Regions from separate parts of the Homo sapiens genome. Here region 2 is linked to region 1. Evidence: fine-mapped expression QTL. Tissue or cell type: whole blood. Region 1 holds a variant in brackets; the other region holds the start of a gene. All regions are shown on one strand. Distances are from middle to middle.

Region 1 (8,177 bases):
TGTTGCTGGCCAAAGACTGAGACCAAGACCACCAATGGCTATGACCAGGATTGGCCAAACTCAGGAGACTGATAAATAGCTCCAGTGCCCGTAGGCTCATGGAGAATTCCCAGCAGACCCTTTCTTGAGCAGATCTTGTTTCCTATTTTATAGACTGTGGTTGTGTATGAGGTCGTATTTGAATGGGGGATTCCATTCTGCTGCTGAAAACACATCTATAAACTGCTGGGTGAGGTGCCATCTTGTCTTGCACTGGCTCACCAGCACAAAGATGACTCTGCCCCCACCTTGTCTCAGCAGCATGGGAGGTGGCTTGGTTACAGCTCTTCTAAATGTCCTCTGGGGGGTGCCAGCCAGCTAGGCAGGGTGGGGAGGCAGGAACTGGGAGGGCACGCAAGGCTGATGGGCTGGGAGCGGCAGAGGCTGACCCCACAGTTGCTGGGCAGATGAGGAGAGGCAAGGAAGGGTATGTTGTGTGTGAGGTTAAGTCTCCTGGGGAGCAAGAGAATAACCTGAGTGAGAGGAGAAGCTGGCTAAGGAGGAGAGGCGGCTATGGTGTCTTTCCCAGCTGCCGCAGTGGGGGTGCCCAGGGCAGGTGTTGGGGACCCAGCCCTGTTGCAGGGAAAGAGCCCTGTTATTCTCGCCCTGAACTGCCGGCAGACAGGACTTCAGCACTGGCTCAGTGCAGCTTTGAGGCAAAGAAGTAAGCCACAGAATTCTGGTCACAAAGGGAAAGGCCTGCGATTCCTGTTAGGAACAAGGCCACCTGACACGCTAGTGAAGCGGGGCTGGTCTAACTGTAGGCTTCAGGAACTGGGACTGCATCACATTTAACTCTTGCAATACCAGCTTGCTTTCTGAGGAATGGAGTAGGCTGGCACTGAAAGGGGCTTCTTGAATATGACCCCCAGTTCCCACGCAGTCATTTTGAAGAGTGCTGCTGTCTGTTCCTTCCCACCAGGGGCAGAGTTTGCTGGTGGAGTGTGACCACTAGCTGGGGCATTCCCTGGTTACACGGCTCCCATCCATGGCAAGTGGGCCAGTGACTACGGCAGGGCCCTGCTGGAGCCAACCTTAAAGCCAGTGGCGGGGGAGGTGGGGCGTCAGGTTGCTGACTTCTGACCCAGAGAAGGCCTGCTAATTGAGGGTCTGGAGGTGCTTGTTGCTGTCTCTAAGACATGCTTGGCGCATTGTGGGCAAGGCTGAAGAAGCCATGCCCAGCCCCAGAACACGCAGAAACCCATGATTTCCCTTCACTCAAAACAACTATCTGGGCCAGGTGCAGTGGCTGAAATCCCAGCACTTTGGGAGGCCAAGGCGCGCGGATCACGAGGTCAGGAGATCGAGACCATGCTGGCTAACATGGTGAAACCCCGTCTCTACTAAAAATACAAAAAATTAGCCAGGTGTGGTGGTGGGCGCCTGTAGTCCCCAGCTACTCGGGAGGCTGAGGCAGGAGAATGGCGTGAACCCAGGAGGTGGAGCTTGCACTCTGCAAGCGCCACTGCACTCCAGCCTGAGAGACAGAGCGAGACTCCGGCTCAAAAAAAAAAAAAAAAGAACTATCTGCCCTTCCTAAGCTTAGCTCCTCGCCACCCCTGCCCACACATGGCCCTGAAGCCCAGCTGTCCCTGAAGGCCATGCCTGTGGTGGTGGAGGGCCAAGCACTTCCCTGGAGGAAGCCCGCACCTCCTGCACTGGGTGGTGACCCCTGGGCTAGGGCCTGCTGCCCCCTGCCCAGTGCAGGAGGGTGGAGGGTCACTCCTTAGGTGGTCCCAGTGGGGCTGGTGGGCAGGGGCTGCACCTGGGCCACTGGGGTGACACTTGTCTAAGTGCTCCTTGTAGAGAAGGCCTCTGTGTACAGCAGCACTGACGAAGATGCGGACAAAGCGGGGGAAGGACACCCCTGCCTTTGTGAAGGCCTAGCCGAGGCGTCTCTGCTGTGGCTCGCCCAGAAGCCCTGCTACTCCTTGGCATTGAGTGGATAGGACTGGCTGCAGGAAGGCTGTGACGGTGCCAGCTGTGGTCAAGGCTGGAGCAGAAACAGCGGCTGATAAGGAGCTGGTTTCCCTGCCAGCCAGGGCAGAGCTGGTTGCAGGCTGGTGTGAAGTGGGGAGCCAGGCAGGTACAGGGAGGAGCGGGCTGGACACCAAGCTGGCAGAAAAGGCCAGTCAGGTGACCAGAGCTGGAAGATCCACCAGAAGCATTTAAGGGGGCCAGCCAGGCAGGAGAACAAAGGGAAGACGAAATGGATGCTCAGGTCCACGCCTGACCTTGCTGGATGTTTTCTGCCAGGGTGGAAACCAAGCCCTGGGGAGGGCCTGCAGGAGAACCAATGGCCTGAGAAGGTGCATGATGTCATTTCAGCTGTGCTCAGCTGAAGGCAGTTTCAAAGATGAAAATCTGATAAGAAAAAAGATCCTTCCTGTGCTCCCTCCTGCTCATGTTAGAATAAAATCAACTGCCTCTCTGTAGCCCAGTGGGCCCCACCACCCTCTCAGCATCCTGCCCCCTTCCCTGTGTGAAGAGCATCTTTCCCAGCTGCTGTGCGGGAGCCAGGGCACCTCTCTCCCGCCCTGCCTCTGAGACTTTGCACATGCTGTTCCTAGTGCCTGAAATGGCCTTCCTATCACCCAGCACCTGGTCCAGCTCTGAGTACCCTCCGCAGAGTTGCATGCTCCCTCCTCTGTGTCCACAGAGCCTGGTGCCCCCTCCAGGACAGCACTTAGCCCTTCACAGCGGTGGTCCTGGTGCATGTCACTCTCCCATGAGACTGCAGGCCCTAGAGGACAAGTTCCTTGTGTGCTTTTCCCTGTCCCCCGGAGCCTGCTCCCCAGAGGAAGGACAGCGCAACAGCATACCTCAGCCAGGCTGGTGACCAGGGCAGGCGCCAGGGTTCTCCAGTATGGCCAGCAGTGTTGCCTGCTGGGGCCTCTGTGGATGGGCGTGTCTGGCTGCAAGTCCCATCACACTCATTAGCTTGCCTTTGCAGGGTAGCCTCGGCAGCACCCCTAACTCCATGGCAACAGCTGCTGGTCCCAGGGTACCTGGGCTTAAAAGTACAGACTCTGCCCAGACTAAAGAAAGATACAGCTAACAGCCAGGGCAGCCCTAAGGACCTAGCAGGCTACAGCCTGGACCTGGATTTGTGGGTGTGGAGAGGTTATCCCTGGGCTCTCTGGAGGCCCATTGACAAAGTTCCAAAAGACACCAGAATGACCTCTAAGGAGCTGAGTGGGGTCAGTGGGAAGATCCCATAATCTAGAACTTTCCTTAGCTATAAGAATCCTGGCTGCCCACAGCTCAGCCCTGGGGGTCACAGTGGGCAAAAGGCTGAAGAAAACATCAAGCAGACTGTTCCTCTTACAAGCCTGTACGGGGCCAGTTCTCCCGCAGGTCCCGGCAAGGGGTCAGACCCTGGTGGACACACTCAGGCCACGTGCCTATGCTGCTGAAAGTACCCCCTGAAAATGCACGGTGCACAGGGAAGGGCAGAGCCCCAGCTCTGGGGCAAGGCTGACAGAACCTGCTTAATCTTCTCTGGAAATTAACGGTGGCTATGGAACAACAGAAAAAGACTTGACTTGAAAGTCCCTGAGGATTTATCAGGAAACTTCCCTGCTCCTGGAGGGCTTACTATGCGGTACACAGTGCAGGGAGGGGGGCGGGGGGTGGAGACACTGTGTTTTGGAACCAGACAGCCCTAGGCTCCTAACCTAGTGCTGCCAAATATTAGCTCCTTGACCTGGGGCAAATGAGCCTGCCCCTCTCTGTGCCTCAGTTTCCCCCTCTGATCAGACTATGTAAGATTCTGGCATACAGTGGGTCATTAGGCTCCCCCTCCCCCACCCAGCATGGCCTGTGGGGAGCGCAGTCTGTCAACTGACCACAGGGCTCCCAGGCCATGCTGGACTGACTTAGGGGATACTAAGGGCGTGCTTACTAAGCAGGGTCCGTGTGCCCTTCCTCATGGTGTGCCACCATAAAACCGGGTTCCAGAACCCCGAGAGCCACCCGAACTGCAGGGGACCAGGGCAGGGCCAGGCCACTCACTCTTTCCGTTGGTCAGCCAGTGAGCTGCCCCGTGTCAGCGCAAACATGTCAAACTCATCTTCCAGTCGACCAGAGGCCTCCAGAGACTGCAGGCCAGCTCTCACACTGCTGGAGCCCAGGTCTGCAGGGACAGAAAGGCCACGTGAAAGACCCATCCACAAGCTTGTGTGTGAGCTGCTGCTGAGCTACCTGCTGCCAGACCCAGGGCTTGGTGCTGGGGAAGTGGCACGTGTGGGTGGGGGAATGCGCGAGGCAGGCCACCTGCTGCTGGCTGTGGGGCCTTGGGCAAGCGGCTTCCTCTTCCCAGCTTTAGTTTACTCACCCCTCTTGGGGCTGCTGTGAGCGTTAGAGAACAG[T/G]CAAAACGCTATCCATTGATTCTGCTGGGGAAGTGGCTGGGCAGGAGGACAGTAATCAGATGGGTAGTCGATTTTTTCAAAAAGTATAGCATTAGTGATGCAAAATGGGGTGCTAATGATTTCCTAGGGCTTGGCATGAAGCAGACAGTAAATTATATTAAAACCTATCACAGTGATAACAGTGACAATGGCCAACTACTCAGCCAGAGTGCAACCTGGGCCTGGCATGGTCTAAGCGCTTCTCATACACGAGCTCCCTACTCCTGTTAAAGAGGAGGAAAGAGAGGCTCAGGAGGTTTAAGGAACTTGCCCAAGCTCACGCAGATGATTGAAGCCATGGAGAATTCAGTGTAGAGGGCCAATCCTAGGATGGTAGGATTTCTGAGATCCAAGGCGGCTCAGGACTTGTGGGGCTGCCAGGGGCAGTGACCCCGAGTGCCCCACCTTGCAGCAAGATTCAGCCTGGGACCCCAGCAAGGTGGGGTCCAGACTGACACTCTGCTGTGGGTATATAACAAGGGCACCCCGAAAATCTGCAGGGGTGCCCACAGTACCATAATGTACCCTCAGCTGGAGCCCTCCAAACCACACTTACTCATTCCTGCCAGCTGGGATGAGAGGTTGCCGGTGGCTGCTGGGTCAGGGCCCATGTCGATCAGGTCAGCTGCCGGCTCGGCCTCACTTGGGGCCTGGTGGGAAGGGAGATGCCCTGATCATCCCCGCTGTCTGCAGCTTCGTTCCTTTCTGCCCCAAGCACTGTGGCTTGCAGGCTTTGCCCAGGGATCTGTCACCAGGGCCCCAGGAGCTAGGACTGGGCATCAGGGAATTTCCTTCCTCCCCTCTGGCTCCAGCTCAACTGGACTCCCTGGGAGGTTGGGGAGACCCTGGGGCATCAGGTGGTGGCACAGCCTTATTTACCTTAAAGGGACAGGGACATAAAAAGTTAGAAGGGGATTTCTCTATGGGCCTGGATAAGACAGCACCACCCTGTCCAGTTTACTAGGGGAGGGAGGTGAGAATGGCACTCCTTCTTCCCATGAACAGGGCCTGATCTAGTCACAGAAAAGAAGACTTTTACCTTGGTGGTCTGGCCTGTTCGGAACCGTTCAAACCTACAAGACAGAAAAGACACGAGTTATGGAGACAGACTGAGACAGGCCCCCACACACGGCCAGGCAGAGCTTTTCAAACTGTGGGTCTCAACATCAACACGGTGGGTTATGATCAGGGTGATGACACGTCTGGTGTGCCCTGGACAGATCCAGTTCATGCCTGCTGTCCCTGGGTAACTAGCAGTGCTCCTCTTTCCCTTGCAAAAGTGTCCCAATTTGGATGATCAATTATAAGGCAACCTTAGTCATGAGTAGCATGAAACAAATAAACAGGAATAGGTTAGAACAGCAAAGAAAATAGGAATGCATGGCACGCAGTAAAGGTAAGGACTGTCTTATGAAACTTGTTTCAATTACATATTTGTGTGTGTGTATGTGTGTGTGTGTGTGTGTGTTAGTGCTCTCTTCAGTGCTGTAAGAAAGATACATGTATCTCTAATCTTGTTTTATGGAGCTACTTAGGGGCCGGTGTGATAGATCGAGAAGACTTTAGTGTGGGGTCTGTTCAAGTCGTGGCCTTGTCACTTATCACATGACCTCGGGTAAATTATGTTCCTTCTGAACTTTAGTCTGCTTGTCTAGTATCTGTAGGCACCTGCCTCCCTGAAGTGCTGAAGCCCAAATTAGGACATGGGTATAAGTGACTGCGAGCTTGAAAGCACAGTCAGATATTAAGCCTAATGACTGTGGATATCTGAGGGTACCAGCTGCTACCAGATGGGGCCCCTCAGTCACCTCACAGCCCATACCCCAAAATGGCAGGGAAGAGGCCTTTCATTCCACTGGGCCAACGAGCAGGAGAAGCTAGGCAGACGTGACCTGCAGGGTACCCCCCACTTTCCACTGATTTAGAATCAATCAGTGAGTGTCTTTTGATGGAGAAAGACACAAAAAATGAACAAGGGGCTGGAGGAGGCTGGAATAACTCATGTCAGTTATCAGACACCCTGGACTGCTAAGCGCTTTACAGACACTGTTTCATGGACTCTCACTTATGCCACAAGCCTCATTTTACAGATACAGAGGAGGTGTGATGGGCACACAATTTCTGCAGACCCAGCAATCCTTCTCCTTCTCTTTCCTTTTTTTTTTTGAGATGGAGTCTTGCTCTGTCGCCTAGGCTGGAGTGCAGTGGTGCGATCTCGGCTCATTGCAACCTCTGCCTCCTGGGTTCAAGCAATTCTCCTGCCTCAGCCTCCCAAGTAAGCTGGGATTACAGGCACCCACCACCACCTCCGGCTAATTTTTTTGTATTTTTTAGTAGAGACGGGGTTTCACCATGTTGGCCTGGCTGGTTGCAAACTCCTGGCCTCAAGTGATCCTCCCGGCTCAGCCTCCCAAAGTGCTAGGATTACAGGTGTGAGCCACTGCGCCCAGCCCTTCTCCTTCTTTTGTAATAGCACCTAAGTACTCTTTAGAGGAACTGCTCCTCCCCCATTTCACATCATCCCGGTGGGGCTGCCATCAAAGGGCCCTCTCCCATACCCCAGCTGGTAGGCACAATGAAGCTCAGCCAATCCAAGTCTCTCTTGGGGATGTGACTCTTGAACAGAATGATACAAGGTGGGCAGGTGGGTGTGGTGGCTCATGCCTGTAATACCAATGCTTTCGGAGGCCAAGGAGGGAGGACTGCTTGAGGCCAAGAGTTTGAGACTAGCCTGGGCAACACAGTGAGACCCCTGTCTCTGCAAAAAGAAAAAAAAAAAAAGAAAAGAAAATTAGCTGGGTGTGGTGGTGCATGCCTGTAGTCCCGGCTACCTGGCAGGCTGAGGTGGGAGGACTGCTTGAGCCCAGGAGGTTGAGGCTGCAGTGAGCTGTGATCATGCCACTATACTCCAGCCTGGGTGACAGAGCAAGATCGTGCCTCAAAAAAAAAAAAAAAAAAAAGGTGGACAGGTGTTTGTGGACAAGTGTTTGAGCTGATGTATTTATTGATGGCAGCACCCTGGGGAGATGGTCCAGGAATTTCTGCTCCTGAGACATCTGAGCTGCCCTGGGATCCATCTTTCTTGTTCTGTTGGGAGACATCAGTTTCACTTTTCTCTGGATTCTGAAAGCTACCCATTTAATAAAGATTATTATCCTAACAAATTCTTTTTCTGCCTAAGTTAGCCAGAAATGTTTTGTGTAGCTTGCAGCAGTGAAGTCACTTGTCTAAGGCCCCAGAACCAGGAAGTGGTGGAGTGGGCGAGGACACACCAGGCCAGTCTGGTTGCAGGGCCGTGCTCTCAGCTGTGACCTGTGACCATCTCCCAGGGCTGGACTTGGGCACAGGCAGCAGCGCTAACCCTGGAAAGGAGATACAGGGCGGCTGGAAGGAGGGGCCCTCATAAACATCCTGGAAGAAGACAGCTGAGGGCACAGGCCCTTAGGAGCCTGCCTTGTGTTTGAGAGGAGGACGAGAGAAGGCTCAGATGGCATGAGACCAGGAGAACAGGGAGGAAGGGAAGGGAGAGGGTTGGGGCAGTAGGCCAGAGGCCAGGGGAGGTGCTGGGGCTACCGTTCATGGCGCAGGAACACATTGTTGAGATTGTCATTGACGATGAGCAGCTCCTCTGTCAGCTGCTCATTGGCGATCTGAGGGATGAGCTCCAGGACCCGCTGCTGCATGGCTCGGCACGTGCGGTTGAGCTCCTGCCAGGAAAGGAAGTGAGGC
Region 2 (8,177 bases), 35 kb after region 1:
TCTGTCTCAAAAAAAAAAAAAAAAAAGAAATAATAAAAATGATGATGGTGATGATGACAGGAAGAGCTAATGTTTCCATACACTCACACTGTGCGAGACACTCTCAGAGGACTATCTTGTTTCATTCCAGCAACCACCCTGTGAGGCAGATGCTGTTAGTAACATTCTACCAAGGAGGAAGCGGAGATTCAGAGCCCAAAGTCATAGGGCAAGGGGGCCTGAGGATCTAGGATAAAGGGAGAGTAAAAGAGCAACGTCGGGCTTGGGGCAAGCCTCAGGGAGGAGGTGATGATGCCCTGTACTTTGAAGGGTGATCTGGAGCTCCTCAGTGGGGGCACAGGAGCAAGCAACCCAGGCAGAGGGACCAGCAAGCACAAAGGGGTGTGTGTGTGTGTGTGTTGGGAGGGGAGGTGGATGAGAACTTTGTGATTCCAGTGACTGACACTCATTCCTGATTAGCATCATTAGAATCACCATCTGAGGGATGTCAATTCCATATGGCTCTACAGCTCTACTATCAACAAGGGCATGGGAGTCGGCAGGCTTGAGAAGAGATGGTACTCCTGCAGCAAGGAGGGGCCTGGTTTACAGAATTATAAGCAGCTATACTGTGTCATCAGTAATCACAGCCAGGGAGCAGTACTTCCTCCGCCTCTTTATCTAAAAGAATATGGAATACTGAGGGGATTAACTCAAACTCTTAATTCTACTTTTGGAGCCTCTTCAGCTTTGGTTTAAATTTCAATGACTCAGTTTTGCTGTCAATTTACTGGGGTCTTGGATGAGTCACAGCCTCCACTTTCCCCTCTCTGGACCTTAGTCTCCGCCAGTGTAAAATGAAGGGGATGGGCTGGAACAGCATTAGCATTACCCGGGAACTCAACAGAAATTCACATTCTAGGCCGGACACGGTGGTCATGCCTGTAATCCCAGTACTTTGGGAGGCTGAGGTGGGTGGGTCACCTGTTCAGGTTTGAGACCAGCCTGGCCAACATGGAGAAACCCCATCTCTATTAAAAATACAAAATTAGTCGGGTGTGGCGGAGCGTGCCTGTAATCCCGGCTACCTTGGGAGGCTGAGGCAGGAGAATCGCTTGAACCCGGGAGGCGGAAGTTGCAGTGAGCCAAGATGGTGCCATTGCACCCCAGCCTGGGCAACAAGAGCGAAACGCAGTCTCAAAAAAAAAAAAAAAAAAAAAAGAAAAAGAAAAAGAAAAAGAAAAAAAAAGAAATTCACATTCTAGAGTCCCACCGCAGACCTGGAGAGTCAGAAACTCTGGGGTTGGGGCCCCGACATTATTTAACAAGCCCTCCTAGGAATTCTGATGAGAACCACTGGGTTAGAAGATCCCCAAGGTAAGGCTCTTTTACCTGCAAAATTCCATTTGTGCTTTAAGGTATTATGATTTAGTAGCATTCTCTTTGCACAGAAGTATTTCTTGCCCAAGAAAGGCAACGCTTCAAGGTAAGAAGAGAAGTTTGCTTTGATTAGCTGAAATCCAGAACCCAGGTGAGCTTTTCCAGAAAGCCTTAAGAGTATGTGGCTGACTTTGAAGCCAGGTCTTTTATTTACTTGTTTATTTTTAAGTAGTAAGTCTTAAACTTGGCATGTGATAAAAGCAGTGGTTTCTGTAGTCAGAGAAATATAGATGAGAGGAGAGCTGCCTTCTCTTTTCAGCTCCAAAAAACCATGACTCACTGTGGGGTGGGTGTGTGTCCGGGGAGGGCAGGGGTCCTTTGAGAGGGCAGTTCCTCTCCCTGGTTCAGGAGCTTCCTGGTGTGTAAATCCTGGACTGCCACCTCCCCCTTGGAGAGCATTGATTACAAAACCTCGGAAGAGCCACCGACAGCCACGGTGGCGATTACAACACAGAGCCGGGTCGACAAGCTTTCGTGAGGTTTCGCAAGACACTAAGAATGGAAAATATGTCTCATCTTAAAGTTTTCCCAGTCTGGACTTAAGACGAAAAGTCGTCATCAAAAAAGATGAAGAGTAATTTCACGGTAATGCGATGGTTTCTTCATGCAAGAATGCGGAACACCCAAACCATCCTCCGGAGAAGTGTGGCTGTTTGGGTGAAGGCATGTCGGTTCTCATGGTGTTGGTGCCCAAGAATGAGCACCTATGAGATCTACTGCCAAGCGATTTCCAGGGATTCCTAACCTTCACTTGGTGATCTCAGGAACAACGTGTGTGTGTAAATACATATAATATATATGTATGTGTATGTATATGTATGTTTGTATGTGTATATTTTTATATATATGTGTGCGTGTGTGTGTGTGTATGTGTATGTGTTTCAAGAGATGGGCTCTCCCTGCGTCGTCCAGGCTGGAGTACAGTGGCGCCATCAGGGCTCACTGCAGCCCTGACCTCCCAGATCCAATAAATCCTCCCAGCTCTGCCTACCGAGTGGCTGGGTGCACAGGCACGCACCACCACGCCCGGCTAATTTCTGTATTTTTTTTTTTTTTTTTTTTTGTAGAGACGGGGTCTCGCCATGTTGCCCAGGCTGGTCTCGAACTCCTGGGCTCAAGCGATCTGCCCGCCTTGGCCTCCCAAAGTGCTGGGATTACAGGCGGGAGCCACCGTGCCCAGCCCAGTGATAATAAATATTACAACTGTTTTTTTTTATATGGCACTGGCCATGTACCAGGCATTGTTCTAAGTATTTCACATTTATTAAGGAATTTAATCTTCACAACAAGCCCACGGAGGTGGGGACCATTATTGCCCGCCAACTACAGGTGAGGAAACCTCGGCCCAGGGAGGCTGCGTCACAGAACTGTGAGTATCCTGTCACCAGGGTGCAGAGAACCACGGACCAGCAGACAGGCGCCAGGTGCCCTGGGCTTGGCTTGGCCCGAGTTCCCGGCTGCCCCACCTACGGAGCACCGAGATGGGCTGACCAGGAGGGTTTGTCCGACCACTGTCTGCTCAGGTTCTGAGAGTCTGTGCGGGTCCATTTGAGGTTGGGTCGAGAAAAGAGCCCAGGCGGACACGTCCTGAGACCCGGGTCTGTGAGGCCTGGCCGCGGGCTGTCCGGCGCTGGGCCCCTCTGGCCAGTTGGCCCCAAGACGCCAAGCCCGGGGCTTCGCGGTCCTGGGAGAAGGGACTTCTAGCCCTTCTCAGGTGTCTGTGTCCGGAGGGCCCGGTGAGCCAGGAAGGAGCTGGCCAGAGCCCAGGCGGCGGGACCCAGCAGAGTGGCCCAGCCACTGCCAACCACGCAGTCCCTTTAACCACGAAAACTTTCTCCCTCGATTGGGGACCCCAGCAGACGCACATTGGCTGCGCCGTGGGCATCCGGACCCACCCTCTCTCCTTACCTACTGGCTGTCATATACATCTATCACAAGCCAAGGCTTCCTAATGGCCCAAGTTCTTGTCAATCAAGAGTGGGAGGAAAGCTGGGCGGAGCCAGGTCGGAGAGCTACACGCCAGCCTCCTTGCCCTCCCTGCCTCCGTGACTAGGCACCCGGAGGCTTCCCAGGGGACCGAAGCTGGGTGCGGAGCACCGGGGCGGAGCTGTGGGGGGCTCCAGGGACTCACCGATGCGCTGTCCCACTGGAGAGCTGAACGGGTTCCCCAGGAGAAAGTCCATTGCTGCTACCGCCGCTGCCACCAACCCCGGGAATCAGCTGACAGCAACCGCCAGCGCCACCGACCCGTCACGTGACGCACTCGGAGGCCGGCGAGGAGGCGTGGGCGGGGCGGTGGCACCGCGAAGCTCGACCACAAGCCCCGCCCTGAGACGCCAGGGTCCCGCCCCCGAGGCGGAGGGCGATGACCTCACTGCGGCTTGCTCGGCGGCGGCGGGCGTCACACACGATGTAGGGTCTGGGGTCGGGGCCCGGGAAGCGCGGTCCTCTTTAAGCCACGCCCCTGACCTTTTAGGGCGAGGTCTAAAGGACCCTTTACACATTTGGGAAACTGGGTCGTAGACCAGGGAAGTGACTTGGGTGAGTTACACAGAAGCCGAGACTCTTAGGGTCATAGCCCTTAGTCCTTGGGACCTCACTGTGACTGCACACCTACCCTGGGTGACAGCCTCTCTGGGCTGTTGTCTCCTTGTCCCGGTAAGACTCTTCCTGTTTGATGTCAAGGTCTCCCCGCTCCAAGATGCACCCTGCTCGCAGCCCAAATTATCTTACCTTAAATCAGAGGCAAGGGCAAGGGGTTTGTCATCTGTTGAGACTGAGAGGCAATTTAATGAATTGCAGCGCAATTCCCTCTAGCGCCCAGGATGGCAAAAAGCACAGATGTAGTCACGAGTGGGGCTTTAATACCCGTCTCTGCCATAAATTTACTGTGTGAGCCAAACATAGCTCCCATTTTCTCTAGATACTGGAATTAGATCAAGGACTCGTAACCATTTTTAAAAAATATTTTATTTAGGTCACAGTCTCCTTTGAGAATTTGACAAAAGCCATGAGCCTTTCTGAAGAAAAAAGGCAGCGATACAATTTTGCTTATAACCTCAGGGAGTTTCTGGGGTCCCTGAAGTACAACCGTGGACCCCAAGCTAAGAATCTCAAAGGCCTTTCCCAGCGTTGTGATTCTAATCTCTTCAGCCTTCCTGGCTGTGTGTGGTGTGTCTGCTGACACCTACACACTAGATACCTATCTATGGGTTATGACCTTTTCTTCTGGCATGTACTCCAAAAATACAATAACCATGGCCTTAGTAGTCTGGCTACTGTGGGTGCTTAAGTACTTATTGTGATGTTTGTGGTTTTTAAATCTGAAAGGCTAGTAAATTGACTGCACAAATTTTGGATGACAGAAAACCTAAATTAAGCAAGGTGTGGTGGCTCACGCCTGTAATCCCAACATTTTGGGAGGCTGAGGCAGGTGGATCACCTGAGGTCAGGCATTCAAAACAAGCCTAGCCAACATGGTAAAATGCCGTCTCTACTAAAAATACAAAAATTAGCCAGGTGTGGTGGTACACGCCTGTAGTCCCAGCTACTTGGGAGGCTGAGGCATGAGAATTGCTTGGACCCAGGGGGGCAGAGATTGCAGTGAGCTGAGATCGTGCCACTGCACTCCAGCCTGGGTGACAGAGTAAGGCTGTGTCTTAAAAAAAAAAACAAACCTAAATTAGAACTTAATCACCTCTGTAGATTCACTTGTTTGAGCAGCCATGGGGTCCGATGTCTTTACTGTACAATATAAAAACTGCTTTGAAGTGTTTCCACAACACTCATGAGACCTGTTCACAAATGCCTTTGCCCCCACGAGTCTGGATGTCCCTGGGGGCTGGGCTACTATTTCTGTTTTGCTCCCCACTATTGTCTAACCCAGTAACTAGCACATGAAAGCTTAAATAGATCTACGTTTCAGTAATGGTATTTGGAGTATAAGCGGGGAGAAGGCCATTTAAGATGACCTTCAGGTCAAGGCACTTTCCATGTCTTTCTTCACTTAACCTTATTGCTTGGTCATATGGAGTTATGTTTAGCATGAACTTCTTTTGGATTCTTCCATTAACCTTTATTTATTTATTTTTAGAGGCAAAGTCTCACTATGTTGCCCAGGCTGGTCCTTGAACTTCTGAGCTCAAGTGATCCTCCCACCTCAGCCTCCCAAAGCCCTGGGTTACAGGCATGAGCCACCATCTCTGGCCCTTCCTTTAAGCTTTTAACAAGTTCTTGTAAACTTTATTCATGGTAAAAAAAAAAAAAAAAAAAAACAAAAAAAAACAAAAACAGAGACAACTCATATGCCCCCAAACAGGAAGTGGAATCATAAACTCCATGCAGGCTGGGCACGGTGGCTCACACCTGTAATCACAGCACTTTGGGAGACCCAGGCAGGCAGATCACGAAGTCAGGAGATCAAGACCATCCTGGCTAACACGGTGAAACCCCATCTCTACTAAAAAAATAGAAAAAATTAGCTGGGCGTGGTGGTGGGCGCCGTGGTGGGCGCCTGTAGTCCCAGCTACTCGGGAGGCTGAGGCAGGAGAATGGCGTGAACCTGGTAGGCGGAGCTTGCAGTGAGCAGAGATTGCACCACTGCACTCCAGCCTGGGAGACAGAGCGAGACTCCGTCTCAAAAAAAAAAAGAAAAACAACTCCATGCAAACTGATTACTATATAGCTATTGAAACAGAAATGGAAGTATATGGATTTATTTATTTATTTATTTTTAAAGACAGAGTCTCTGTCACCCAGGCTGGCGTACAGTGGTACAACTGTAGCTCACCGTAGCCCTGATCTCCTGGGCTCAAGTGTCTTCCCACTTCAGCCTCTTGAGTAGGTGGGACTGCAGATGCATGCCACCATACCTGGCTAATATCTTTTAGTTTTTGTAGAGATGGGGTTTTGCTATATTCTCCAGGCTGGTCTCAAACACCTGGCCACAAATGATCCTCCTGACTTAGTCTCCCAAAGTGCTGGGATTACAGACACGAGCCACTGCACCTGGCCAGTATATGGATTTTATCAACATAGTAGATAGGGATGTAAATGGCAAACATTAAAGTTAGTACAAAACTGATTAAAACTGTCTTTAAAAAGTGTGCTAATAAGGAGCAAACTGATTTAGTAAAAAGTGTTTCAATTTACTTTTTAAGTGTTTTAGTAAAATTAATATCATGCCTTACTGAGGGTTAAAATGTTCAAATTTCTTAAGATTGACAGTCTGCATAAATGTAATCTATTAAATCCTTTAAGTGCTTACAGACAAAAATCAAGATACCTTGCCTTCAAAATTTAAAGACAATAGTATGACAAGAGTGAAAGCCAGCTAGATACCCGAACAATGCAAAGATCTGAGACAGCATTCCCACAATCACATTCGCTCAGGACTTGAGATAATGGAAAGCATTCTGATGAATTATAGACATGATTTAAATCTGAAAGTAGCTTGGGGTAGAAAAGAGCCTAGGGTTTGGGGTCAGCTGTTTCACTGTTCTTAATCTGCCTTTGCCATTTACTAGCAGTATAAACTTAGGAAAAGTACTTTTTCGCATCTATAAAGGGAGATAATATTCTTAAGGCTTTGGGCGGAGGATGAGTGAGACAAAGTATGCAAATCACTCTAATAGTCACTCAGTGATACGGTAGTCTCTTCCTTGCTGCCTTTCCATAAGACATTAGCCTTGTAATTAATCATATTATTTTACTATTTATGACTTTTAACACCTTGTGTTTGCACTGAAGTTTTTACCTTGAAAGGTCATATCTCCATATATTCAGTGTTCATAATGTTATTAAACATTCATGTCAGGCTGGCTGGCTGCAGGTCTACAGACAGGGAAGTGACTTTAACACTATTCTATAGATGGGACTTTGGAAGCCTATAAAGATTAAGTAACTTATCAACAGCATTACTGTAATGCTAACAGGACAGTACTGAAACATATCATTTAGCACATGATTCAGATGCAACCCTTATATAAGATTAATCAACATTTTCTTGATTTAGGCCAACACCATAATGCACATAGTTTCATTTGCCAATAAATGGAGGTGGAATTATCAGATTCACTAAATTTGCAATTTGCAAAAGAGAAAATGAGAACCTCTACAATGTAAAAGTTAATAGAAGCAGAGTAAGGAGTATATTAAGAAAATGGCTAAGATTAGAAATTTAATCTCCATTGTGGGTTGATTTTTTTCTTAAGAAAATTATGGTAGAATAGAGTGAAAAACAGGTTTTATAATTTCATAGCAACTATGATGATCATGATTAGGGAAAAGACAGCTGAGACTGGACTACAAATATTAAAAATGTGATTTTTAATAATATAAGTACAAAATTTTATTTCTTTATACAACTGTAATGGGATTTGGATCAAACCACTAGAATTTATTTAAAAAACAAAATAAAACAATGATATAAAAACTGCAAGAAGGTCTGAATCCAAAGTTTTTCCTCTAATAGTACCAAATACCACAAGGTACAGATTATTATACAAATGTGTACAAATTTTAAATACAAATACAATAGGGCTGGGTTTCAAAGGAAAACAAACAAAAAGCAGGTCCTCATCAGGATTTCATTAATGTATATAAATGACAATGCTAGGATTAATGTCTTCCTATACTATCCATGTCTTCCCCGCCCCTCCTAGATACCCTGTGTCAAACAGGAAACTTCCACAGATACAGAAGAGGCATGGTACAATGTTCTAACACATGAAATCAAGTTAAGATTTCTGTTCCTCTTG

The links. PIP is the estimated chance that this variant, and not a neighbour inherited with it, causes the effect.
Region 2: it holds the start of TOM1, and the variant in region 1 is fine-mapped to the expression of TOM1 in whole blood (INTERVAL, PIP above 0.99).

What each region holds. Positions count from the first base shown.
Region 1 is chr22:35,330,325-35,338,501 of GRCh38, reverse strand. TOM1 (target of myb1 membrane trafficking protein) reads right to left here. Exons shown (of 15, transcript NM_005488.3): 8 at 8,022-8,155; 9 at 5,488-5,521; 10 at 5,005-5,098; 11 at 4,054-4,174. MIR3909 (microRNA 3909) reads right to left here and starts at 2,862; the gene lies at 2,744-2,862. MIR6069 (microRNA 6069) reads left to right here and starts at 1,703; the gene lies at 1,703-1,781. RefSeq lists enhancers at 778-1,687, 7,642-8,142. The variant T/G (reference allele first, on the strand shown) is at 4,410.
Region 2 is chr22:35,295,354-35,303,530 of GRCh38, reverse strand. TOM1 (target of myb1 membrane trafficking protein) reads right to left here and starts at 3,637. Exons shown (of 15, transcript NM_005488.3): 1 at 3,551-3,637. The coding sequence starts at 3,602. HMGXB4 (HMG-box containing 4) reads right to left here. Exons shown (of 11, transcript NM_001003681.3): 11 at 7,724-8,177. RefSeq lists enhancers at 1,972-2,493, 2,904-3,063, 3,017-3,539, 3,464-3,613, 3,540-4,062.